7 linked regions of the Homo sapiens genome follow. Changing the gene in region 4 together with the main gene of any one other region gives a genetic interaction. Each region holds a gene or a part of one and is shown on either strand. Other genes may lie near its edges. The genes, in order: NUP85, POLN, MASTL, PPP2R1A, CDC40, MBTPS2 and GOLT1B.

Evidence for each region.
Region 1: changes in PPP2R1A (region 4) and NUP85 together harm fitness more than expected from each alone (negative genetic interaction), as found in Homo sapiens cells (one large-scale study listed by BioGRID).
Region 2: changes in PPP2R1A (region 4) and POLN together harm fitness more than expected from each alone (negative genetic interaction), as found in Homo sapiens cells (one large-scale study listed by BioGRID).
Region 3: changes in PPP2R1A (region 4) and MASTL together harm fitness less than expected from each alone (positive genetic interaction), as found in Homo sapiens cells (one large-scale study listed by BioGRID).
Region 5: changes in PPP2R1A (region 4) and CDC40 together harm fitness more than expected from each alone (negative genetic interaction), as found in Homo sapiens cells (one large-scale study listed by BioGRID).
Region 6: changes in PPP2R1A (region 4) and MBTPS2 together harm fitness more than expected from each alone (negative genetic interaction), as found in Homo sapiens cells (one large-scale study listed by BioGRID).
Region 7: changes in PPP2R1A (region 4) and GOLT1B together harm fitness more than expected from each alone (negative genetic interaction), as found in Homo sapiens cells (one large-scale study listed by BioGRID).

Annotation. Positions count from the first base shown.
Region 1 is NC_000017.11:75,226,179-75,229,678, reverse strand, and holds part of NUP85 (nuclear pore complex protein Nup85), read right to left. Parts: intron 2,935-3,500; exon of another isoform or gene 1,514-2,934; coding exon of another isoform or gene 1,399-1,513; exon of another isoform or gene 548-1,398; intron 1-547. UniProt on the Homo sapiens protein: Essential component of the nuclear pore complex (NPC) that seems to be required for NPC assembly and maintenance. As part of the NPC Nup107-160 subcomplex plays a role in RNA export and in tethering NUP96/Nup98 and NUP153 to the nucleus.
Region 2 is NC_000004.12:2,232,122-2,235,621, forward strand, and holds part of POLN (DNA polymerase nu), read right to left. Parts: intron 40-3,500; coding exon of another isoform or gene 1-39. Other genes in the region: HAUS3 (HAUS augmin-like complex subunit 3), read right to left, coding at 1-39. UniProt on the Homo sapiens protein: DNA polymerase with very low fidelity that catalyzes considerable misincorporation by inserting dTTP opposite a G template, and dGTP opposite a T template. Is the least accurate of the DNA polymerase A family (i.e. POLG, POLN and POLQ).
Region 3 is NC_000010.11:27,161,852-27,165,351, reverse strand, and holds part of MASTL (serine/threonine-protein kinase greatwall), read right to left. Parts: intron 289-3,500; coding exon 182-288; intron 1-181. UniProt on the Homo sapiens protein: Serine/threonine kinase that plays a key role in M phase by acting as a regulator of mitosis entry and maintenance.
Region 4 is NC_000019.10:52,224,552-52,228,051, forward strand, and holds part of PPP2R1A (serine/threonine-protein phosphatase 2A 65 kDa regulatory subunit A alpha isoform), read left to right. Parts: intron 1-1,165; coding exon 1,166-1,257; intron 1,258-1,413; coding exon 1,414-1,430; 3' UTR 1,431-3,500. UniProt on the Homo sapiens protein: The PR65 subunit of protein phosphatase 2A serves as a scaffolding molecule to coordinate the assembly of the catalytic subunit and a variable regulatory B subunit.
Region 5 is NC_000006.12:110,225,427-110,228,926, reverse strand, and holds part of CDC40 (pre-mRNA-processing factor 17), read right to left. Parts: intron 2,761-3,500; coding exon 2,684-2,760; intron 96-2,683; coding exon 1-95. UniProt on the Homo sapiens protein: Required for pre-mRNA splicing as component of the activated spliceosome. Plays an important role in embryonic brain development; this function does not require proline isomerization.
Region 6 is NC_000023.11:21,838,369-21,842,416, forward strand, and holds the start of MBTPS2 (membrane-bound transcription factor site-2 protease), read left to right. Parts: upstream 1-1,248; 5' UTR 1,249-1,366; coding exon 1,367-1,441; intron 1,442-4,048. UniProt on the Homo sapiens protein: Zinc metalloprotease that mediates intramembrane proteolysis of proteins such as ATF6, ATF6B, SREBF1/SREBP1 and SREBF2/SREBP2.
Region 7 is NC_000012.12:21,504,789-21,508,288, forward strand, and holds part of GOLT1B (vesicle transport protein GOT1B), read left to right. Parts: intron 1-2,096; coding exon 2,097-2,188; intron 2,189-3,500. UniProt on the Homo sapiens protein: May be involved in fusion of ER-derived transport vesicles with the Golgi complex.

The sequences.
Region 1 (3,500 bases), on a different chromosome or scaffold from region 4:
AGTGCTGCACAAAGCCACCACGGTCTCTCTACAGGGCCCAGCAGGCCTGAACCACACAGTTAGGTCTTAGATCACACACGCACACACTCCCACTCTCACTCTGTCTCTCTCTCACTCTGAAGGATTCTGAGTGAGCAGCCGAGACACAGAGCAGGTGGGCATCCTTAACATTCAAGGCAAGAAAGGCCTAATTATCAGCTCCAAAGTAGCCCTCTGCTGAAAACGAGAGAACGCTGCGGAGTTGGGAAGACCAGCTACGGTGAAGGTGACCCCTCTAAGCAACTGTAGCCCCAAATGAGCTGTTTGTCCTGTACTAAGGTCACTGTCAACTCCTTACCCAGGCCCCATCTTGCTTGTTGGGGGCTCTGGAGTAATCAAAGCTCCAGTGCCTCTACCTGCTATTCTGGAAATGGGGTGTGAGGTTTGTAAACACTGCTGCACCCTGCATCCAAGATTGTGGGCTGGGCCAAAATACAAGTCAGAAGATTCTAGATTCAGCAGACATTAAGCTGGAACTCTTCTTGGTTATTGAAGGAAGACTTGTCACCTTTTAGCTCGATACTTTTGGAGGACTTGAAGGGCACCAGGAAACTGCCGACATCTTGCCCAACTCCCAGTGAAGTGCACCCCAGCTGTTTCCTCTTGCCAGACAGCAAGGAACTGGCCCGTCTTCAGAGGAAGCTGTAAGCCAGGAGGGAAGAAGGGACCCTGTGGAGGACTCCTGCCATCTCCTTTCAGCTAAGGGGTTAGCAGTCAAGCATGCCCACCCAGGCACTGAGAGACAAACCCCTGGCCCTTTAGCAGGGCTGACGAACTACAGCCTCTGAGTCAGGATCCCCTGGCTGCCTTTTCTGCCCCTTAGGGTCTGGCACGATTATTGACATAGGAGTAAATCAGGGGCCCACTTAGAAACCTCCCTTCTCCATGTTCATATGAAGGTGGTGTGAACAGGAAAGGAAAAAAAAGAAAGAAACCTTTTTTCTAATGCCTTTAAAAAGGCATGCCAACAGCTCACTGGCTCAAGTCCAGAAAGAGACACACTTCCCTGCCGCCCAGAACTGTGCATGGGTCTGACTGATACATCCCATGAGAAAACAAGTGCCCACAAGACCCCAATTCAACCTTTCCCCAGAGCCAGGAGGGCACACTTCCTAAAACTGCTACTGCCTCTGAAGACATTGCAGCCCATTTCACAATTCCTGGGACAAGCTCTGCTTTTCTGTTCCTCTTTCAAAACAGGATAGGAGGTAGCCTCGTGATCAGAGAAATGCAAACTCCAAGATTTCCCACTAACAGAGCTCAGATCCCTTCCTGCTTGTGAGAGTGGAGAGAGGCTGAGACTGGGGGACTGCAAGCCTAATCATTCCTTGTCTGTGTCCGGCACGAGAGTGATGTTGTTCACCCCTCTTCATGGTACTTCTCTTTCTCTTCTGCCACTGGAAACAGCAGGATGCTTTCCCCTTTTATACTCCCTGCATCCAACAGACTTCTTCTGCTCAAATCTGTTTTATTCCTAAAAATCCAGATACAGGGCTTATAAATTAGGAAGCCCTGGTGAAACTCACTCACTGTTATAACACAGGAAATTTAGAATACTCAACTATGGGCAGAGACACCAACAAAGCCAAACGATGGTGTGTTTGTGTGTTTTTAAGTTATTCTCACTAATTCTTCCATGCAGGGACTTCTCACAATGTTTACAGGCCTGTGAAAATATTGACACAAAACTTGACTTTCAGGCCGGGCATGGTGGCTTACGCCTGTAATCCTAGCACTGTGGGAGGCCAAGACAGGCAGATCGCTTGAGCTCACAAGTTCAAGAACAGCTTGGGCAACATAGTGAAACCTCATCTCTCCAAAAAAAAAAATAATAATTAGCCAGGCATGGTGGCGCACACTTGTAGTCCTAGCTACCTGGAAGGCTGAGGCAAGAGGATCACTTGAACCCAGGAGGTCAAGGCTGCAGTGAGCTGAGATCACTCCACTGCACTCCAGCCCGGGTGACAAAGTGAGACCCTGTTTCAAAAAAAAAAAACTTGGCAGGGCGCGGTGGCTCACGCCTGTAATCCCAGCACTTTGGGAGGCCGAGATGGGCAGATGACCTGAGGTCAGGAGTTCCAGACCAGCCTGCCTAGGCAACATGGTGAAACCCTGTCTCTATTGAAAAACACAAAAATTTGCTGGGCGTGGTGACGGACACCTGTAATCCCAGCTACTTGGGAGACTGAGGCAGTAGAATTGCTGGAACCCAGTAGGTGGAGGTTGCAGTGAGCCAAGATCACGCCACTGCACTCCAGTCTGGGTGACAAGAGCAAAACTCTGTCTCAAAAAAAAAAAAAAAAAAAAAAAAAACCCAGAAACAAACACACAAAAAACTTGTTTTTCATTCCCCAAATCTAGTATCATTTTCTTGAAGCCCTGGCATTCTTTTGGCCAAAACAAGAAAAGCAGGTAGGGCGAAGGAAACTCTTCCCATGCCCAGATCTACAAACAGCCAGTTGAGGTCAGTGAATCTGACACCTGATCAAGGCCATCTTCTGCCATTACCCACTTCCTCCCTTCCCAGCACGTCTTCAGTGCAATGCCCACCATCCAGGGTGCACAACAAGGAAGGGGACCTTCTTTCTGACTTACCATATATGGAGAGTTCTGGAAAGGTTTACCTTTGATTGATTATGTTTGGCACTCCCTTTCCTGCCTTGCTAAAGATTCAGTGCAATCATAGAACACCCTCTTTTGGATAGAGGGCTGGAAATTCTGAATAATACCCAGCCTGAAGCCCAGTGGTTCGGTAGCTCACGTCACTGGAGTGAGACTCTTGGAACACGCCATCCCATAAGGTGTCCATTAGGTGCCAAGAAACAGGCTTGCTGGCTTTTTCTAGATTTTAAATGTCAAAGTAGTTTCCCGCGATGTTATTTTAAATGAACATCCCTGAAATGGAAACAGTTATGTATATGGTAGCCCTCAAGCCTCCAGGAAGTCCCTAAGCTCACCCAGAGAAAAGCCATTATCTACCTGTGGCAAGTCAAGCAGGGGAGCAGATGCTATGGTTTGAAGGGATCCCCTCTAAAACCCCAGTTTTGCCAATGTGATAGTATTAAGAGGTAGGGCCTCTAAGAGGTGATTAGGCCAGGAGGTGATTAGGCCACATCCTCCCTCATGAATGTGATTGGGTGCCCTTATAAAGCGACTTGATGAAGGGAGTTTGTCCTTCTTGCCCTTCCACCACATGAGAACACAGTGTTCAAGGTGCCATGTTGGAAGCAGAGAGCAGCCCTCACCAGCAACATTGCCAGTGCCCTGATCCTGGACTTCCTAGCCTCCAGAACGGTGAGAAAATAATCTTTTTCTTTATAAATTATCTGGTCTCAGGTATTCTGTAATATCAGCGTGAGATGGACTAAGATAGCAGGTCTGAGGGAAGAAGGGTAAGGAAGGAACAGGCCACTCTAGAAACGCAAGGTGGTGATATTTGTACACCTAAAAATGGTTACAGT
Region 2 (3,500 bases), on a different chromosome or scaffold from region 4:
CAGTTGAGATTCAACTTTATGAAACTGCTCTGTTAACTCCTAAAAAAGGAAAATAAAAATAAAAATTAAAACACTTTATTCCTAATACCAATTATAAAATTAAAATATAATTTACATGGAAAGACTTTAAAGGACTTAATAACTTCCCGCAATTTTAGCAATAAATAAACCTCGATTTAAAATCCATAACAGGTTTAATATAAATTCTAAGTAAGATTAATTGCAACAACTTCTGATAGATAATTTTAAGTGATTCAAAGGAAACTCTTGCTGAAGTGTACTCGATATGTAAGCTGTTCTGTGCATTCATATATTCAACAAATGCTATTGTGCCAAGTACTGTTTTAGAGATTACTGATACAAGAATAAACAAAATCTCCCTGATGGAGCTTATATTCTGCTTAATAAATCAAACCTTGTTTTAGCCTATTCTCTGTTTATTCTGGACAGAAGGTACAGAGAAAGTTGAAATGAAGACCAATAAAAGAGAATTAGCTCAACACAAATCTCCATTTTTCATTTTTTCATATTGTCTTACCAAATAGAATTACACATGACATTCCACGAAAACCATCCTAATCATATAATTTTCCTGCTCAAGAATCTAGCCATGCCGACCCTTCATATTTATTACAGTAAATTCAAATTCCTCAGTGTCTAGCATTTAAACCAGATTATTAACAAGTTTCCATAGCTTTCTAATCAAGCATTCTACTTATAAATTTTAGCCAGTATCACCAAAGAGGTTCTCAGAAAAATCTGTTGCTCTAACTACCCTCAATTTTCCACAGCTTCTAGGCATAGTCCACAAGTATCATAATTATCTGAGGTACTTGTTATGAATACAGATTCCTGTACCCCCCCACTAGACTAAATTACTTAATCTCTGTACAGAGCTAGGAACCTGCGTTTTGATACGCTCCCTGATGATTCTAATGTACAAGTTCAAGAATGACTACTTAAGACCTGTCATAAATGCCAATTCACAGAGGAGTACTTCTTAAAATACATACTTTTGAAAATCAAGTAATTTCGACATTATATCTACATTTAGTGATATCCTCTAAGACAAACTTGGTAAACTTGAATATACTGAGAAACAACAATCTCATCTTTACCTTCAATTAAATACTAAAGATCATACAGTTGCTAAAACAACATTGCTACAGATACTGAAGTTCAGCTTCATTAATAATAGAAACACAAGTTAAAATTGATACGGCATTTTATATCACATTGAGCTAGGGAAAAACACTAATGATACCCACTGATAAGATTAGAGTGAGATTACCATATTTTAGTGATTCTTGGATGCATTTTTTTTTCACATTTTAACATATCTGAAATGAAGATGCATCTTAATCAAGAACATCATATGATTGTTTCTGGCCAGGTACTCTTAAGAAATACTTTCTCATCAACATTCCTGATACACAGTGTGGAAAATTACAGACAACTCTGAGTCAAAAAATAACAGAAGAATTGAACATTGAAATGTGATGCTTTAGAACTACCCTAACCATTTAAATTGACTTATTTTTTTCCTTTTAACATATGCCCAAGAGTGGTATGATAAAAATCTATGTCTACCTACATCTAAAAAGATCTTTTCTAGTAAGTATGAAAAACAAAAATTCTTAATAAGAAAACATTGTGTTGGTTTAACTAAGAGTTTTTCTTTTTTGGCAATTCATAAAATGATGGCGTGCCATATGGTCAATGGTGTCTAGTAGACACTTATATAGTGCTGGTAGCATTATAAACTCCTTTAAAAAGCAATCTGGCCATATCAAAGGCAAAAAAAAGTGTATATACCACCCTGGCACAAAAAACCCCAATGACCCTATTTCCAAGAATGTATCCAGATGAAAGTATCCAACAACAAAAAGCTATATACACAAAGATACATATGATATTGTTCAAGAGCAAACAAAAGAAAAAAAAGAAGACTATCAAAATACCCAGTAACAATAACCAGCTACAAAATTGATGGCACAGTAATTAAATCAAGACAGTATAGTTAACATTAAAAGTTAAGAAAACTATTTAGAGAGTAAAAATGTTTATTTCATCATGCTAAGTAAAAACAAAACTATGGTCTTTGCTGAGGGTCTTTAGAAGTTAGCACCATGGCAGAAGACATGAAGGTCAAAATTAAGAACTACAGGACTGTCCCATTTGACAGCCACTTTGTCAACTAGAACCAGAACATGAACTGCTGGCAAAACTACCTGGACTTCTACCACTCCAAGACGGCAATGACTGCTAAAGGGGGTGATGTCTCTGTGTGCAAATGGTACTGGCATGTGTGCAAGTCCCTCTGCCCCATATCCTTGGTCTTGACCTGGGACAAAGGCACGTTTCCTGGGAAAATCAGAACTGGCTCCACCCCACCTTTCCTCTGTTCTCCATCCTTCTCCCAGGGTGGTAAACGGGGACCTGGGTACATGATGATCCCTACCCTGGGTCCGTGAATCAGGACTTAACTAATAACAAAAACTTACTGGAAAAGTGTAAAGAAAAGAAAACTATATGCCTTACATTACTAAGCAAAAGAAAAATGGCAAAGGAATATTAATATTAGACAAAACAATATCAAGAGAAAAAGCATCACCAGGAATAGTCATTATGTAATGCTAAATGCTTTGATTCACTGCAATTTAAAACGACCAGGATAATTATTCACTGCAACTTTAAACCTGGATATAACTTATAAAATAGACTCAAAATACATAGAGAAAAAAATGATATACAACTACATGGAGAAATTTTCTTCTTTTTTGACACCAAGTCTTGCTCTGTCGCCCAGGCTGGAGTGCAGTGGCGCGATCTTGACTCACTGCAAACTTTGCCTCCCGGGTTCAAGGGATTCTCCTGTGTCAGCCTCCCAAGTAGCTGGGATTACAGTCACCCGCCACCACGCCCGGCTAATTTTTGTATTTTTAGTAGAGATGGGGTTTCACCACCTTGGCCAGGCTGGTCTTGAACTCCTGACCTTGTGATCCACCCGCCTCAGCCTCCCAAAGTGCTGGGATTATAGGCGTGAGCCACCGCACCCAGCCTATGTGGAGAAATTTTCAAATCCACCATCGCAGTGGAAATTTTTAAATCCACCATCGCAGTGGAAATTTTTACACAATTCTCAATAGATCAAGAAGACAAAAATCAGTAATGGGAGACCTTTCAAAAAACAAATCACAGATACCACTTCACACCCGTTGGGATGGCTACTGTTTTAAAAACCACAGGAAATAACAAGTGTTGGCAAAGATGTGGAGAAACTGGAATTGTGCAGCTGTGAGACATATAAGACCATCATAGCAGTATGATCTATAGTAACAAAAACTGTAAATAACCTAAATGTCTGTCAATCTAACAGATAATTTCATTGTGGAATATCATATAATGGAATACTAACTATACAAAAGAGAAAACTATGAATGAACTATATAGCTTTACGTGTATCAACATGAGTGAGTCTCAAAAACATATTAAGCCAT
Region 3 (3,500 bases), on a different chromosome or scaffold from region 4:
TTCCCCAAAACACCACCTAAGTACATAGACTGTTATACCACCTAAGTAGACAAACTGTTAAAGTAAATCCAAATGCTTGATATTTAAATCTATTTTGATCTTTTTTTTTAAAGGTGATTTTAAATTTTAAGTGGTGATCATGAAGGGGTATGTCATGTTAATTTTCTTCTCAAGTACTTACAAATCCCAACGAGCTGATAAGCGATAACACTTGTCCTGGGGTTCTTGAATAATCTTGTCTAGGTTTTGCCATTGATGGTGTTGTAAGGATATCCATCATATTAATATCTATGTATGCAAAGAAAAGTATATAAATGTATTTAAAACCTTTACCTCCCATTGACTAAAAATGAATGTTATGTATATGACAACAAAACAATTTTTTGTAAACCAAATGTTAAAAAAGGAGACAGTGGCTGGGCACGGTGGCTCACACCTATAATGCCAGCACCTTGGGAGGCTGAGGCAGATGGATCACTTGAGGTCAGGAGTTCGAGACCAGCCTGGCCAACATGGTGAAACACTGTCTCTACTAAAAATACAAAAAGTAGCTGGTCTTGGTGGTGGGCGCCTGTAATCTCAGGTACTCGGGAGGCTGAGGCAGGAGAATCACTTGAACACGGGAGGCGGAGGTTGCAGTGAGCCGAGATCGCGCTACTGCACTCCGACCAGGGCGACAGAGCAAAACTCTATCTCAAAAACTAAATAAATAAATAAGGAGATGGTATGGAATCAATATTAATTTTAGGCCCCTCACGTTAGCTAATATGTTTAAGCCTAGGTCAAGATAGAAACTGACCCAGATTATTAGCATGTTTCAGTGCATAATATTTTAAAATAATTCAACACTGACACATAATACTATACTATTCCACTTAGATATAAAAAATGGTAAGAGAAGTCTAATGTTCTTATCCAGGCATGGTGGCTCACATCTGTAATCCTAGCACTTTGGGAAGCCAAATGGAGAGGATCCCATGAGCCCAGGAGTTTGAAACCAGCTTGGGCAACATAGTGAGACCTATCTCTACAATTTAAAAACTAGCTGGGCATTGTGGCAAGCACCTGTAGTCCCAGCTACTGGGGAGGCTGAGGTGGGAGAATTGCTTTTCCCAGGAGTTCAAGGCTACAGTAAGCTATGATCACATCACTGCACTCCAGCCTGGGTAATACAGTGAGACCCTGTCTCTTAAACAAACAAAAATAATCCCAGAACTCTAATGTTCTTATAGGACTTTTTAAAATTAGCTGGGTGTGGTGGCTCATGCCTCTAGTCCCAGCTACTCGGAAGGCTGAGGGACAAGAATCGCTTGAGCCTGGGAGGCAGAGGTTGTAGTGAGCCTAGATCATGCCACTGTACTCTGTACTCCAGCCTGGGTGACAGAGCAAGACTCTCTCTCAAAATAAATAAATGAATGAATAGGCTGGGCGCGGTGGTTCACGCCTGTAATCCCAACACTTTGGGAGTCCAGGGCGGGTGGATCACGAGGTCAGGAGATCAAGACCATCCTGGCTAACATGGTGAAACCTCATCTCTACTAAAAATACAAAAAATTAGCCGGGCGTGGTGGTGGGTGCCTGTAGTCCCAGCTACTCAGGAGACTGAGGCAGGAGAATGGCGTGAACCCAGGAGGTAGAGCTTGCAGTGAACTTAGATTGTGCCCCTGCACTCCAGCACTCCAGCCCGGGCAACAAAGCGAGACTCTGTCTCAAAGAAAAAAAAAAAAAACAAATAAGTAAATAAATGAAAGTATACTGAAAGTTTTAACAACAAATGTCATTTATGCCTCACATTGATGAAGTGATAATAATAATACACGTATATGATATTTTACAAAAAAAGTTTTATTAAAATTAGACCCTTATGATAAACAAAGTGACTTAAATTTATCAACAATTTTATCTTAATGCAAAATTTTTGTCATTTGTGATATTTTCCAATAGCTTATCTGAAATCCTTAGAATCAGATTTCGAAATAAGATTTCAAAGTCAGATTTCTTTGAAATCACAATTCAAAAATGTTTAGATTTTAGAAAAGTAATGTGGTAAATATACTGCATATTATGAAATATCCCTAGTGGCAAATCATATGAATAATCACATGAACTGGAATCAACAGACTATAAATACCCCTGGCCAGGCACGGTGGCTCATGCCTGTAATCCTAGCACTTTGGGAGGCCGAGGCGGGTGAACCACCTGAGGTCAGGAGCTCGAGACCAGCCTGGCCAACATGGTGAAACTGTGTCTCTACTAAAAATACAAAAATTAGCTGGGCGTGGTGGCGGGCACCTATAATCCCAGCTACTCAGAAGGCTGAGGCAGGAGAATTGCTTGAACCCGGGAGGTGGATGTTGTAGTGAGCCGAGATCACGCCATTGCACTCCAGCCTGGGCAACAGAGCAAAAACCCCATCCCAAAACAAACAAACAAACAAAAGACTATAAATACCCCTACATCAGCATAGATCAGATTTTACCAAACTTAGTAAAAAGTTTTAGGTATTCATAACTGTTGAACTTTGTACTTCCACATGAAGAATTGTAGATCTGCATATATTTTCAAATATTAATAGTTATAATTCCAGAGTTTTTAAGTCCAATTTCTGGTTATTTTCATTATTAATACTTTCCCATCCGTCTACACTTTCTAATAGAGAATACAATATGTTTCTTTTTTTTTCGAGATGGAGTATCGCTCTGTCCCCCAGGCTAGAGTGCAGTGTCGTGATCTTGGCTCACTGCAACCTCTGCCTCCCAGGTTTAAGCAATTCTCCTGCCTCAGCCTACTAAGTAGCTGGGACTACAGGCGTGTGCCACCACACTCAGCTAATTTTTGTATTTTTAGTAGAGATGGGGTTTCATCAGGTTGGCCAGGCTAGTCTAGAACTCCTGACCTCAACCTCAAGTGATCTACCCGCCTCGGCCTCCCAGAGTGCTGGGATTACAGGCATGAGCCACGGCACCCGGCCAAGAATACAATATGTTTCTAAGTTGATAATCAATCATTTATCCATGTTTCTATGATGAACTTAAGTAATTTCTAGTTTCTCCCTATTAGAAACAATGTTGCTACAAGTGATTTCATTTATGTGTATTTTGTTCATTTGAACAATTTCCTTAGAATAAATTCCAAAGCATAAGCCACTAGATCAAAGAGAATTAAAAACTTTTATATTTAAAAACATATTGGCAGATTTCCTCCAGAAAGCACTATGCTAATTTACAATGCCCCCAGAAAAATATTAGTGTGCTTTTTTGGTAGTATTACTAACTGGACCATCGGTATTCCTTTCTTTTGCCCATTTAATAGTGTAAGATGGTTCATTTACTCTTTCTTATATTAGCATTTATTTAATTACTACTAGTGAAAAGAACACAGTCCCATATATACATATATGTGTTAACTGTGTATTCATTTTCTTTGTCCTTTTGTTGATCAAGGTCTTAGTGGTGGCCGTGTATATTTGAATATGTTTTCAGTTATTAACCCTTCATCAT
Region 4 (3,500 bases):
ACCCATTTGCTGGGCCTCAGAGACTTGGGGGTTCTGAGATTCTGTTCCACTTTCCCAGCCTGCTCTGATCTCCCTGTTTGGGGCCCCAGTCCTTGTTTATCATACTTCTGACCTTTAAGTAATTGGTTGGTTGGTTGGTTTTTTGCAGTTTGTTTGGTTTTCCTTTGAGGCAGAATCTCGCTCTGTCGCCCAGACTGGAGTACAGTGGTGCGATCTCGGCTCACTGCAACCTCTGCCTCCTGGGTTCAGGCAGTTCTTGTGCCTCAGCCTTTCAAGTAGCTGGGATTACAAGTGTGCACCACCATGCTTGGCTAATTTTTGTACTTTGAGTAGAGATGGGGGTTTTCCCATGTTGTCCAGGCTGGTCTTGAACTCCTGGCCTCAAGTGGTCTGCCCACCTTGGCGTCCCAAAGTGCTAGGATTACAGGCTTGAGCCCCCGTGCTCGGCCTTGAGTTTACCTTTTTTTTTTTTTTTTTTTTTTTGAGACGGAGTTTCGCTCTTGTTGCCCAGGCTGGAGTGCAATGATGCAATCTTGGCTCACCACAACCTCCGCCTCCCAGGTTCCAGCAATTCTCCTGCCTCAGCCTCCCAAGTAGCTGGGATCACAGGCGTGCACCACCACGCCCTGCTAATTTTGTGTTTTTAGTAGGGACAGGGTTTCTCCATGTTGGTTTGGCCAGGCTGGTCTCAAACTCCCAACCTCAGATGATCCACCCACCTTGGCCTCCCAAAATGCTGGGATTACAGATGTGAGCCACCACGTCCGGCCTGATTTTACTTTTAATTGACTCATAATTTTATATATTTATGGGGGTATAGTAGTGTTTCAATAATGTGTGCAAATGTGTAATGATCAAATTAGGATAATTAGCATATCTATCACCTTAAATGTTTACTGTTTCTTTGTGATGAGAACATTCAAAATCTTCTCTTATAGCTGTTTTGAAATATGCAAAATGTTATTATTAACTATGGTCACCCGCCTGTGCAGTGATCAGAGATTTCTAATTCCTGTGTGTGCCCTGGATTCTTGAGACTCCTCCCACCTTGGGTTTGGTGTATCCGTGTCTGTGTACACTCTCTTGCCCAAGAGCCCTGTGCCCACCTGTTGCCCCAGTCCATCCTGGCTCACCCTCTCTCTCCCTGTCTCCTTTCGCTTTCCAGCACCTTGCAGAGTGAAGTCAAGCCCATCCTAGAGAAGCTGACCCAGGACCAGGATGTGGACGTCAAATACTTTGCCCAGGAGGCTCTGACTGGTAAGACCTAGAAAGCACGGAGCCCTAGCAGGAGGGTGGACTTTGAGGACAGGCACTGGGCCTGTGGGCAGCAGCTTCTGGGAGGGGGAGGTACCTTGGCATTGTGGGCAGAGAGAGGGCTCTGGTTCTGATTCTTGCCTGTTCCTGTTTTCCTAGTTCTGTCTCTCGCCTGATGCTGGAAGAGGAGCAAACACTGGCCTCTGGTGTCCACCCTCCAACCCCCACAAGTCCCTCTTTGGGGAGACACTGGGGGGCCTTTGGCTGTCACTCCCTGTGCATGGTCTGACCCCAGGCCCCTTCCCCCAGCACGGTTCCTCCTCTCCCCAGCCTGGGAAGATGTCTCACTGTCCACCTCCCAACGGGCTAGGGGAGCACGGGGTTGGACAGGACAGTGACCTTGGGAGGAAGGGGCTACTCCGCCCACGTCAGGGAGAGATGTGAGCATCCCGGGTCACTGGATCCTGCTGCTGTAATGGGAACCCCTCCCCCATTTACTTCTCCACCTCCCGTCCTCCCCATCATTGGTTTTTTTTTGTGTGTCAACTGTGCCGTTTTTATTTTATTCCTTTTATTTTCCCCCTTTTCACAGAGAAATAAAGGTCTAGAAGTAGTTGGTCCTCTGGCCTTAGTCATCAGCTTGGAGGAGGGGGCACCACCCCAGAGCCACAACATCTGCGCTTTTCTCTGGAGAAGATCTTGTTACAGGACCCATTATACCCCTATGTCCCGAAAGAATACTCTGGGGATCCCCCCAGGAGTGCTGCTGGCCTTTGGGGTAGAGGGTCCATGAGGTGCTCTGGGTGGTGTCCTGTAGTGCAGTTCAGATTCATAGATGTCGGCCGAGTATTTGGGGGGTTAAGAGCAGGTGCCTTGGAACCAGACTGCCTGGGTCCAAATTGTGGCTCCTTCAGTTAATAGACGTGTGACTAGGAGTAGCTTGTTAAGTCTTTATGAGCTCAGTTTTGTATTGTGTAAAATGAGAGTTACAGTAATACCTAGATTGCAGGGTGGGTGGCGAGGACCAAGTGAATTAGTACCTGGAAAGTGTGTAACAGTTTCAACATGAGAAGTACACAACATGAGAAGCAGAGTTAGCTGTACATTGCCAGAGAACCCCCTGTGGGCCATTTCCTGTGTTCTTGAAGAAGACTTGGGCTTGGACCCTGTCCCCAGGAGGTCTCAGAGTAATCAGGACGGTACTAGGGAGAGAACTGTGGCAAGATAGATCAGTTATCTCGGTATCTATTCTCCCCTTCCTAATGTAGAAGCTCTGATTTTTAACTGGGCAGATGACTACATGGATTCAAGGTATTTTCCTAGTGTCTCTTGAAATTAGGTGTGGTATTGTGACCAAATTCTAGCCAAAAAGATGTTGAACAGAAGTGGTATATGCAGCTTCTAGGAAGTGTTCTTAAGGGGGAAGGCGTCATCCCCCACCTTTCCTCCTTCCTGCACTCTGGAATGTGGACCAGATGGCTGGAGTAGGAGCTGCCACCTGGGGCCAGAAAATGATCTTAGGCGTGAAGGTCAAGTAAGGCAGGACAAGAGAGAAGGAGCCTGCCTCCCCGAGGCTGTGAAGAGCCATGCCAGTACTGTCACCTGGGAGAATTAAACTGGTCAAGTGCCTGTTCGTTTAGGGTTTCATCACTTGAAGGTGACCGGAATTCTAACTGATGGAGGGAGGGGCCCAGAGCACCCTGGAGAAAGGAGCAAGGGACGTATGGCTGGTGGTGTCTGCATGGAAGGGTTTCACAGAGGAAATGATGCTTGAGCACATTTTGACCCAGGTGGTGGAAGGGAAATGTGGCTTTGAGTGACAAGGTGATTTCACCAGCTCAGCCTTCATATTACCACATCCCTACCCTTTGTTAGACTTTATTGTGCCCTAGGGGATGAGGCTGAAGGAGACCAAAAAGCATCTTTAGAAATTTCCATTTATGCCCTGGGCGATAAACTCTCTCCCAGTTGAGAACTACTGCTCTAGAAATGTGAACACACGTGTAACCAAACGTCAAAGTCTGACATTAAACTTTGACTTTCCCCATGGTTAACGCTGCTGGTCCATTGTAACAAGAGTGCAGTGGACCAGCAGCCTTTGCATTCTCAGGAGCTTGTTAGAAATGCAGAGCCTCTCGTCCCTGCCCCGACCTGCTCAGGCAGAGCCTTCATTTTAACAAGATGCCCAGGTTCATCTGCACACTGAAGTTAGAGAAGTCCTGCCTTAAATACTAACCCAGTTTTTC
Region 5 (3,500 bases), on a different chromosome or scaffold from region 4:
GCCCTTAAAAATTTTTTTCTTATTTAATCTAAATCTGTTCTGTGCTCCAAAAATTAAGATTTGGTTGTCCATTGATTGGCATGCTAGCCATTTTCCTGTAAATTCAATAAATGAGGTATTTTAGAGGAAGACTAAAACAATTTTTAAAACTTTTTATTTTAAATATGTTCACTGTGATTAATATAAGTTTTGCTCCCAAATACTTTATAATACTAAAAAATAAATTTACTATACCACCTGTAAAATGTTATAAATATGTCACTGGCAAGAGGTATTAATATATAAACTAATGGCTTTTGCATATACGATCCTATATCATTGAGCACTCTCATATAAAAGTTTTTAAAAAAATAAGGAAATATAGAAATTCCAAGCTTAATGTTAAAGAAATAAGCTAAAAGTTGTGAAATGAAATTAATTTATAGTAAGTATAGACAACAGAACTATGGGAAATAGGAGAAAGAGACTTATCTGTGGTAATTACAGAATAAAGAAAGATTAAGGGGTGAGAAAGCCTAGGGTTATTAAATAAAACTATACAAAAAAAGATATATTAAAAATTATAGTAACTTTTTAAAAGGCTACAATGCTTTTCTCTACTTAGGATTCATCAAAGCCCCTAGAGCCTAAACTGCAGCGTCTATAGTCATGCACCACTTAACAATGTTTTGGTCAATGATGGACCGCACGTATGACAGTGGTCCCATAAGATTATAGTGCTAAATTTTAACTGTACCTTTTCTATGCTGAGATTTTACTGTACCTTTTCTATGTTTAGATACACAAATGCTTACCACTGACTACATTATTCAGAACAGCAACATGCCATACAGGGGTAAAGCCTAGGAGCAACAGGCTATACCATACAGCCTAGGGTAAGTAGACTATACCATCTAGGTTTGTGTAAGTACTCTGTGTGATGTTCACAAAATGACAAAATCACCTAACACTGCATTTCTCAGAAGTACCCTTGTTGTTAGGAATGCATGACTATACTTGCATCCTATATATAGTCATCCCTTGGTATCTGTTGGGAATTGGTTCCAGGATCTGCACCCCTACCCAATACCAAAATTCACAGATGCTCAAGTCCCTTATATAAAATGGCATAGTATTTGCATATAACCTACATATCTCCTGTATACATTAAATCACCTCTCGATTACTTATAATGCCTAATGCAACGTAAATGCTTTGTACCTAGTTGTTATGCTGTGTTGTTTTTAATTGTTGTATTGTTATTTTTTATTGTTTATTTTGTTGAATATTCTGGATTCGTGCTGGTTGAATCCCAGGATATGGTGCTCATGGATACAAAGGGCCAACTGTACATGTAAACATTACTTACTAAGGAAACAGACTTAAATAATGCCTGAGTGGGTAAATGGCCTTGTTCAAGATGGGCACAAAATCTGTAATAGGTGGTTTAAAAATACGCTACATGAAATATAGATGCACAGTGACGAAGTATATAATCTAGCAATGATCAAAAAAAGGTTCAGTTAGGTTTCTCTTCTCATAAAAATGATAGAGCATTTGACAACTATTACCATTTGCTTGTGTCAGAGGCCCTGATGGAACAGCAAATTCTTCCTTGCCCTACACTTGGAGTTAATTATGTGAATTGACAGTGGTTTCAATGACAAGGTCCCCCAAACATCAGAACTCCCACTTTAAGACTCTCATGTAAAGCTATAATTACATCAGTATATTGTCAGTATATCTGTAGCACAAATTATCTTGTACGTAAAAGACAATGGATTAAACAATATTAAATAGATTTATCTTCTTAATTTTTGCCTGAGAAAATCTTTTATAGTGAATTGCTAAAGTGTTCTCTCATTATGGAGAATCAGACCAAAACTTCCTATCCCCTGAAAGAGTTTACAGTAAATCACTATTACTATTTTTTTTTTTAGAGAGAAGGGTCTTGCTCTGTTGCCCAGGCTGGAGTACAGTCACATGATCATAGTCAATCTCCTGGCTCAACCAAACTGCCCATCTCAGCCTGACCAAGTAGCTAGGGCTACAAATGTGCACCACCATGCCAGCTGATTTTTAAAATTTTATTTTGTAGAGATGAGGTCTCTCTATGTTGCCCAGGCTAGTCTCAAACTCTTGGGTTCAAGTGATTCTTCTGCCTTGGCCAAATCATTATTAAATGATTTACTGAACGTGATTCTGTTTGGAAGGAGAATTAGAAAAGAAAACTCTGGCCGGGCATAGTGGCTTAGGCCTGTAATCCCAGCACCTTGGGAGGCTGAGGAGGGAAGATCACTTGAGCCCAGGAGTTTGAGACTAGCCTGGGCAACAAAGGGAGACCCTGTCTCGAAAAGAAGAAAAGAAAAGAAAAGAGGGGAGGGGAGAGGAGAGGAGGGGAGAGGAGGGGAAAAGAAAAAAGAAAAGAAAACTGATTGTTAAATAAAAATCTGATGTTCAATCAATGTTAGCTGTAAATCATTGTTTCTTTTATTTTTATTTAAAAAGAGACACAGAAAAGTAGGTGAGGTGACTTGCATATGAAAACCAGTAATTCTTTCTAATATTGTAAAGATTACCTTATACAAATAATGGCACAGTGACAAACTTCCCCAAGAAGGAAGGGGCCAAAGTTCTTTTGAATAAAGAAATCACACTGTATCTTAGAAGCTCATTTAAAAATACAATCTACATACTAACTCACCATTTGGAGACAAAGTCACTGCAGGCATTGAGTGCATACTGGGTTCTGCTATGTACTTGAAATCCACAGGGATATCCCTAAAAATTTTAAATAGCATATCAGAATAAGCAACTTTTAAAAAGTACCTTCAGAATTATCTCTGGAACAAAGGAATAATATGCAAATAAAAGCAAACTCTTGATATTATATATTTAATAAATCTTTCATGAAACTTTCTGGAAGAAGAAAAATCACAAGATGACACTGTACTGCTTATGGTAAATCCTGTACTTCATAAATCACTTTCCATGATCATTATAACAGTGGTGGTGATTTTGTTTTCTATTTCATTTAAACTTTGGCCTTTATGTTAAAAAATCTGTTACTGAAAGAAAGTTCTTTAATAATGTACCATGGTGATGGATACACTAAAATCTCAGAATTCACCACTATATAATTCATCCATGTAACCAAAACCCACTTTTACTCCAAAAGCTGTTGAAATAAAACCAAAAATTAAATTAAAAATGTACCATGGTAGGGTGAAGCAAGATGTCTGAGGTAAGCCTATGGGGAAGTGTTATTTACTGGCTAGCCTACCTTAACTTGAGGAGGTGAGAGTGTTAAACAGCCTGCAGCAATGCAGGTGGATGGCAGGCAAAGCTGTAGGGATCTGTGAGCTGATCTAGCCCATCCAGAAATGATGATAAATGATGATAAATAAATGCTTGGTACCTGGACTATCTTCAGTTTACATGTAAAGCATTTCAAATGTGTTTGGTGAAGGAGAAAAAACATAAAAAAAAAAAAAAAACCTCATGTGAGTGATGAAAGAATG
Region 6 (4,048 bases), on a different chromosome or scaffold from region 4:
ATATGTAAAACAGTCATAAGCTGTCTTGAAGCTGGAGAAACATGTCCCTAAGTGAGTAAAACTTTAGGAAAAGCAGGGAGAATGAGGCAAATTAGTAGCAATATTTGTAATATAGGTTTCTGGTATTATTGTATATTTTCACTTGGAAGGGGGTTGAGGATACATTTTTATTTGGGATACTTGTTCTTGAGATAGTATTATGTTCTCAATATTTTGGTATTAGCATTATTATAGCTAATGATGCTTTTCCAGAAAAGTTGAAACAAATAACTTTTAAAGATGCACATAAATAGAACGTAAAAAAACCCCAATAAATAGTTTTCTTTTCTCTTAGAGATTATCTAGTTCAGTGGTTCTCAACCTTGGCTGCACAGTGCAATGACTTGAGGAGCTTAAAAAGTATAAATGCTTGGGTCCCACTGAGCATCTGATTTAATTGGTCGAGGATACAGAACGGGCATCGGGAATTTTAAAAGACCTTGGTGATCCTAAAGTGCAGGTAAGGTTGAGAACTGCTGCTCTAGTTCAATATATAATCAGGTATACATTAACGTTAAAATGTGTAGGTGTTCAGAGTTCTGATTTTTAACCATAGCACCATCTCAAATATTATAAAAGGTTGAAAAAAGAGCCTAATTTAATCAACATGGATAAATTTCAAAAAGCATGTTGAACGATACAAGCCAGACACAAAGAGTACTTATTGCTTTCTATTTACATAAAGTTAAAAATAATCAGAACAGGGGGAGGGGCTACTGACTAGGAAGGGACGCAAGAAGGAAATTCCTGAGAGGGAAATTTTCTCCATTTTGATTAGGGTACACGTATATATATATATATATATATTTATCAAAACTCACAGAAATGGACAATTGAGCTCTGTATGTATGATTTCATTACATGTAAATTTACACTTCAGTAAAAAGGATAAACAATTAAATCTGGATATCTATGACAGGGTCGGGGAGGGAGAGATTATTACTTCAGACGACCCCAAATCCTCATGGGTTAAAAGAAACAGCAAACCCCTGACCAGAACTGGCGAGAATGGAGAGTAGACAGCAGGGAGGGCCAAAGCCTAAGAAATCGCTACAAGACTAGATGCCGAGTTCGAACTACTGCCTGGACGGCAGCGCCCGAGCGCCCGCAAAAATAAGCCCCCGTGCCATTTCCGGTACTAGCAAATCCTCCTGTATGTCCCCACTGGAAGAGTCCGGTGGGAAACCGTGCCACCGCAAGGAAGGAGCCGGCGGTAGCTTGGTTCCTGAGCGGATGCTGGGGCTGTAAGGCGCGCGCGGTCAGCTGTTGGCGGTGCAGGGAGGAGGACGCCGGGGCTCGCCTTCCCTCCTCTGCCGCCGCTGCCGCCATGATTCCGGTGTCGCTGGTGGTGGTGGTGGTGGGTGGCTGGACTGTCGTCTACCTGACCGACTTGGTGCTGAAGGTGAGGGCCTTGGGCCTAAGGTCCAAGCCCGCGGTGCCCATGGCCGGAGCGCAAGGCCTTCTTTTCTCTTCCCCTGCCTGGCGCCTCCCGGGCTGGACGGTGCCCACGTGCGACAGTCCGCGTGGTGGATCGGCCCGGTGGAGTAAATAAAACATTGCCGGCCGCGGGAGGGTTGTGGCGGCCTGCGCGGCTGCCACTGTCGCAGTGCGGGGCAGTGCAGGCCCTTCAGCCTTCGGGTCCTGCCCGGGAGGCGCCAGTGGTGGGATCGGGAGGGCCGGGGCCCTGCCAGACCCAGCAGCTGCAGTGCAGCAGGGAGGAAAAGAAAACGTCTGCTTAGTAAAGACAGTGCTTTCCCTTATTGTTTTTAAGTTCAAAACGCTCTAGAGACTCAGATATTGGAATGAATCTAAATCAAGTCGTGATTGAAATCAGTAGTCTCAAATTTTTAAATGCATATGATCATCTGGTTTGCGGTCAAAATGCAGATTCCGATTCAGCAGGTCTGCGGCAAGGCCTAAAATTCTGCATTTCTAACCAGTTCCCAAGTGCTACTGATGCTGCCAGATCACAGAGTGTACTTCAAAGTAGCACACTCAAATAGCAAGGATTTACATAACCAGTTTCTAACTACTTGAATTCTGATTTACACGCTGCACCCCACTTCTTCACACTAACCAGATACCCTGGGTGCACGGTCCATTTTCCAGTTATTTGAGAAGGGTAGCAAAAAATCAGGAAGAGTCGTCTGACCACATGCTTCAGGCAAGCTTTTGGAATTGAGTACTGGGGGGTAGGGGATGGGGAAGAGTAACTATATATGTGGAATAAGATCATATAAATTCTCAAGTGTTTAATAAAAATTCCAGTTATGGATAGCAAAATCTTCATGTTATGAATACCATTTAAAATAGAAAACCATAGTATTGCATGTTTTAGCTTTAACAATAAAATGAAATGAGACTTTTCCTTCTATCATTTAAACTTGTAAAGTGCAGGAGGTTACATAGCGTAGTCCTTAGATCCAGGGCTGGGCTTCTAGCCAATGTGACCTTGGGAAAATTGCTATCTGTGCCTTGGTTTCTCATCTTTAAATAGAGATAATAGTAAGGATCTCCTAAGATTACAGAGAGAATTACATTAGTGTATCCACATAAAGTCTCGCTCCTCAACTTGAGGTTCAAGGACCAGTAGCACTTGCATCATTTCGGAGCTTGTTAGAAATGCAGAATCCCAGGCCTCACCCCTGACCTAGGGAATCCGAATCTGCATCTTAGCAAGATCCCAGGTGACTCCTCTGCACCTGTTTGTGTTTGAAAAGCACTGATGTGGCCGGTCACAGTGGCTCACACCTGTAATCCCAGCACTTTGGGGGAGGCTGAGGTGGGAGGATTGCCTGAGTCCAGGAGTTTGAGACCAGCCTGGGCAATATAGTGAGACTTTATCTCTACAAAAAATTTAAAAGTTAGCCAACCATGGTGGTGCATGCCTGTAGTCCCAGCTACTCTGGAGGCTGAGGTAGGAGGATCTCTTGAGTCTGAGAGTCAGAGGTTAACAATGAAACAAGATCGTGCCACTGCACTTTGGCCTGGGTGACAGAGCAAGACCCTGTCTCAAAAGAAAAAGCACTGATTTAAAGTACTTGGCATAGTGGTTAACGTGTCATAAGCAATACAGGCCACAATGATTTTGTTGTTTGAAAAAGCCACATGAGCCAGGCATGGTGGTGCAGCCTGTAGTCCCAGCTACTTGGGAGGAAGAGGCGGGAGGATCGCTTGAGGCCAGGAGTTCCAGGCCAGCCTGAGCAACATAGTAAGACACACACACAAAGCCACATGATTTCTTCATGTTGCATATGTGAAAAAAATCTAAAATAAAAAGAACTTTTACAGTCCCTAGTCACAAGTGTGTGAGGTGACCAAGATGTCACTGGTTTCAGTAACAACCCCTAGCTCCTTAAGAATGCACCAACCTCTGAGCAAAAGACCTAACGCCTACTCAGAGTATCTGCCTGGGAAATGGAGAGACCTCAACTTTTAGGAGCCTGCACCTTTAGTTTCTCTGCCTCCAGCTTGGTCTGCTGATCCACCCTGGGCTTTTCTAGGATTTCTGCATAGACATCTGTTAGAGAAGTTGTGTCACTCCTTTTCCAAGTCTTGGAAAACAAGTACACTTAAAATTTAACTACCTGAAGACTGAGAGCAGATAATACTACAGATCCAAAGCAAACAGCTACCTATATTCAGACTATGGTCATTTTTTAAGACTATGATAGGGCTAAGATTTCCTTCTTGGACAGATAAGTTTCTCACATGGGTGGGCATGAATATGACAATACTTACTGTACTTACTGTGTCAGGTATATAACACAGCCTTATGTCATCCAAAATCCTATATTAGTCAAGGACTTCAAACTTCCCTAAAGGTAAAACTCTTGTTGGGGCTGTGTATAAGCCCCTATCCCCACAACCCCAGAGAATTTAAGGGACATTATTGAGCCCAAGATGGCTTTAGATAAGTTTTTTACTTTTTACATGATCGAGGTTGGCCTAACTTCTTAGAGTTGTTGCTCAGAAGAAGAAAGCAAACACTGATCGCAACTGTCCCTTC
Region 7 (3,500 bases), on a different chromosome or scaffold from region 4:
GCCTTTTTGACCGCAGTTAATTTTTAATAGTTCTACTTGGCTATGTTAGATAACAAGCTAATATTAAACTTGAATCCCCTAAAAGATGCGTCCCCCAGAAGTTCAGAATACTCCAGTGTCCTTGAGTTTCATGTAACCAAACACCTTTAACCTAAAAAATAAAAATTCTGTGGGAAGAGGTATGGCATTAATGGTTAAGCACATGAGCTTTGGATTCAAAAGACCTTGGTTCGAATGCTTATCTAGAAGTGTGGCTTTAGGCAACTTAAGTCAACTCTCTAAACTTCAATTTCCTCCATCTTTAAAAAGATGTAATTATACCTGCATTCCAGTAGTATTGGAAGTATTAAGTTATATATAAGGTATGTGAAGCACTTCATAAGGCCTAATTCGTGGTAAATTCTCAGTACATAGTAGGTGTCTTTCCATATACCTTCCTTTCTAAAAACATCTCAGAATTTTTATGTAATCATCAAGGTTATTTGTGAAATGATAGAAATTAGTCATCTTCAACTAACAAAGCTGCCGATGTTTAATCCTAACTACTAAATAGTTATTTAATAGAATTTTACTTGCTCTTTTGTCCATATTTTCCTCTATGAAATTATGTCCACTATCCAAATAGTTAATTTGGTAAATTCTCTTAAGGCCTTTGATCATGAAAGTATCAGCCTCAAATTTTCATAGGAATGTGTGTTGAATTCACTTAACTGGTGTATTTATAGACCAGGTACCTGAATTATTTTAGACTAACTTTGGGAACAAAAGGTGTCTGCAATGGAAGACACTAGTTATCAGGAAATTGAGCAGGTGGGGAATGTAGAAAAAGCTAAAGTTGATAAAAGTTTTCAAGTTATCAGAACATTTTATATGACTTAAGAGTTTTTTAAGTAGCTGTGACCTAGATTTTAGCTTTCTGGAGCTGAGGCAAAAAAGTTAAGCAATAGATCAGAAATCAGTGATAGGGTATTTTAAATTGTGCTTCTAAAAATACGGTGGCTTCTACTCTGACTCATCTGTATGCAGATTGTGCTTCTAACTAAACTACGGATTAATGGCTATTTTCTAGAATCAAAACTAAAATGATCAAGGAGGTAACTTAGTGAATTGTGCTTTATAACATTAATAGAAGAGTACATCTGTCACCTTAGAAGTTAAGACTTTTCATACTAAAAAAATAAGACCTAGAGAATGCACAGTCAATAAAAGTATTAATTTTATATACAAGATAAACATAGACTTTAAAGCTTACACCTCGTCTACCACTGTATATTCAGTACCTGGAACAGTTCCTTGCATCTGGCAGTTGATCAACAATTCTTTGTTTTTTAATGAAACTAATGAAACATGAAAAACCTAGAATATTAATATTAGGTAAAACAGTATTCTTTGAAACTTCGGAGAGGTGATTTTAGGACTCTAGACCAAATATTTAAGTAGATTTATAGTTTAGGTAAATTTGTAGATAAGTCCATAATAAGTAATCAAGAAATTAAAAGTGATGCCTGACCTTCTGAAAATTTGGTTTTGAGAATACTGGTACCATGATTTTCGAAATATTTCTTGTTGCCATTGTGACAAGCAGTATATAATTGGATAAAGGATATTGATTGTGCGGACCTACCATAACATTTCTAATGCAGTAAAGAAGGAATCAATTTTAAGAGGAAGAAAGAACTACAGATATTGTGCATTTAAATAATAATTATAGAATGTGAAAGGAGATAAGTAATTAAGGAAACCTATACATTTATGTCTGATGCGAGAGAGCTTTTCAGGAGGAAAAAAACAAATTACATATTAAAACCAAAGGTTTAGAATCCCGATTTATCTTTTTTATTATAGCTATGTCTGAGAAATGCTATCTCCCATATAAGGCTTAGAAATTTTCATTCATGTTTTAAATTTTGAAATAATTTGCTGATAATTAATTTGTTATAAGAGCTAAATAAATGTCATTATGAAGTTAACCTGCAATGTTGGGTACCTGTTTTCTTATACCTATGAAAGGAAAACTGGAAAATTTTCTTAGTTTACAGGGATGTTAATGTGACTTTAATTTTTCTCTACCCTTAACCATATACCTTATATTGCAGAAATTGGAATGGGATTAACAGGATTTGGAGTGTTTTTCCTGTTCTTTGGAATGATTCTCTTTTTTGACAAAGCACTACTGGCTATTGGAAATGTGAGTTTTTAAATATATATTTTAACTAAATTTATAAGGAAATTTTAACTACGAATGAATTATTATCTGCTATTAAATTTGGGGAAAATAATTCACTATTACTCATAAGTAATTCCTGTTACATTCTCTATTTCCATCAGGAATGAAACCTGTCAGCTTTCTGTTTAAATAAAAGGTAAACACTTAATGAGGTTTTCTAATTCCATAACTACTCTGTTAAGTGTTTGTCATGAGATTTACAATAGATTAAATGAAGGCTGCCTCTAAATAGGAGTTCAAAATAGATGACTTGATAGTTTCATGTCTTGATAAATCACTAAAGTATTTTTACTTTAAACATCCAAGACTTCACATTTGATTCAGCTGCATAAGATAGATTTTTTTAACCTTTTTAAAAATATATATTTCTATGTTAATGGTTGACTTGCTTAGAAAGGGATCTATGTTGTTTATTTGGAATGTGTACTATGCTATTCATGTGTGGAGGTTATGATCCAGAAATAAATAATAACCCTTCTAAGGTAGTGAAGACACTGTATGTGTGTGTGTGTGTATATATATATATACACACACACATATATATTTGGGCTTTTAACTGGAAATGGGAAAAGATAAAGAATAGCAAAATTGTTCAAAATTGATGTCTTAATAAATGATAATAGCATTAGTATCCTAGAATATGAAGCTTAACCATTAGGCTTAATATGTATTTGTGCGAAATATTTTTCACTAAAGAATGTTAATGGGGAGGGCAAGTATTTGGAAAGAAAACCTGGGGAAAGCAAGCTCTTAATCCATCACCATTTCTTGTCCACAGAATACATTCAAAATATTTGAAAACACATGGTTGTATTTTTATTTCTGCTGCCACCAGATATTCTAGAATTTATAAAACTAGAATCTTCTTGGCTTCACGTTGTTTCTTCTGCTATCAACTTAGCCATGTCAATATTTCTCCCATCCATAGAAACTCCTGTAGCCTATGATGAATATTTCAGAACCAAGAGGAATACCCTTGGGTGACATATTTATGGGCAGCTTTCCTCTTTATGCCTTGCCAACTCATCTGCTTGACTAAGCCTTCCTCATCCAGCTAAAACTAGGAAAACTACTGCAGACACAGATGCCCCTTGGTAACGTCTAATCTTTCTTTGTTTCTCTTTTTCTCCATTTAATCAAGATAGAAGAGGAATGAGACAAGTGGAACAAAGCTACAACTTTAAAATGCATAACCCACTCCTTGGTTCTGCTGCTTGGTTGTACATTACAGTTCTGTCTGGCCAGTTGCCCACATTAAAAGCCAAACAAATGT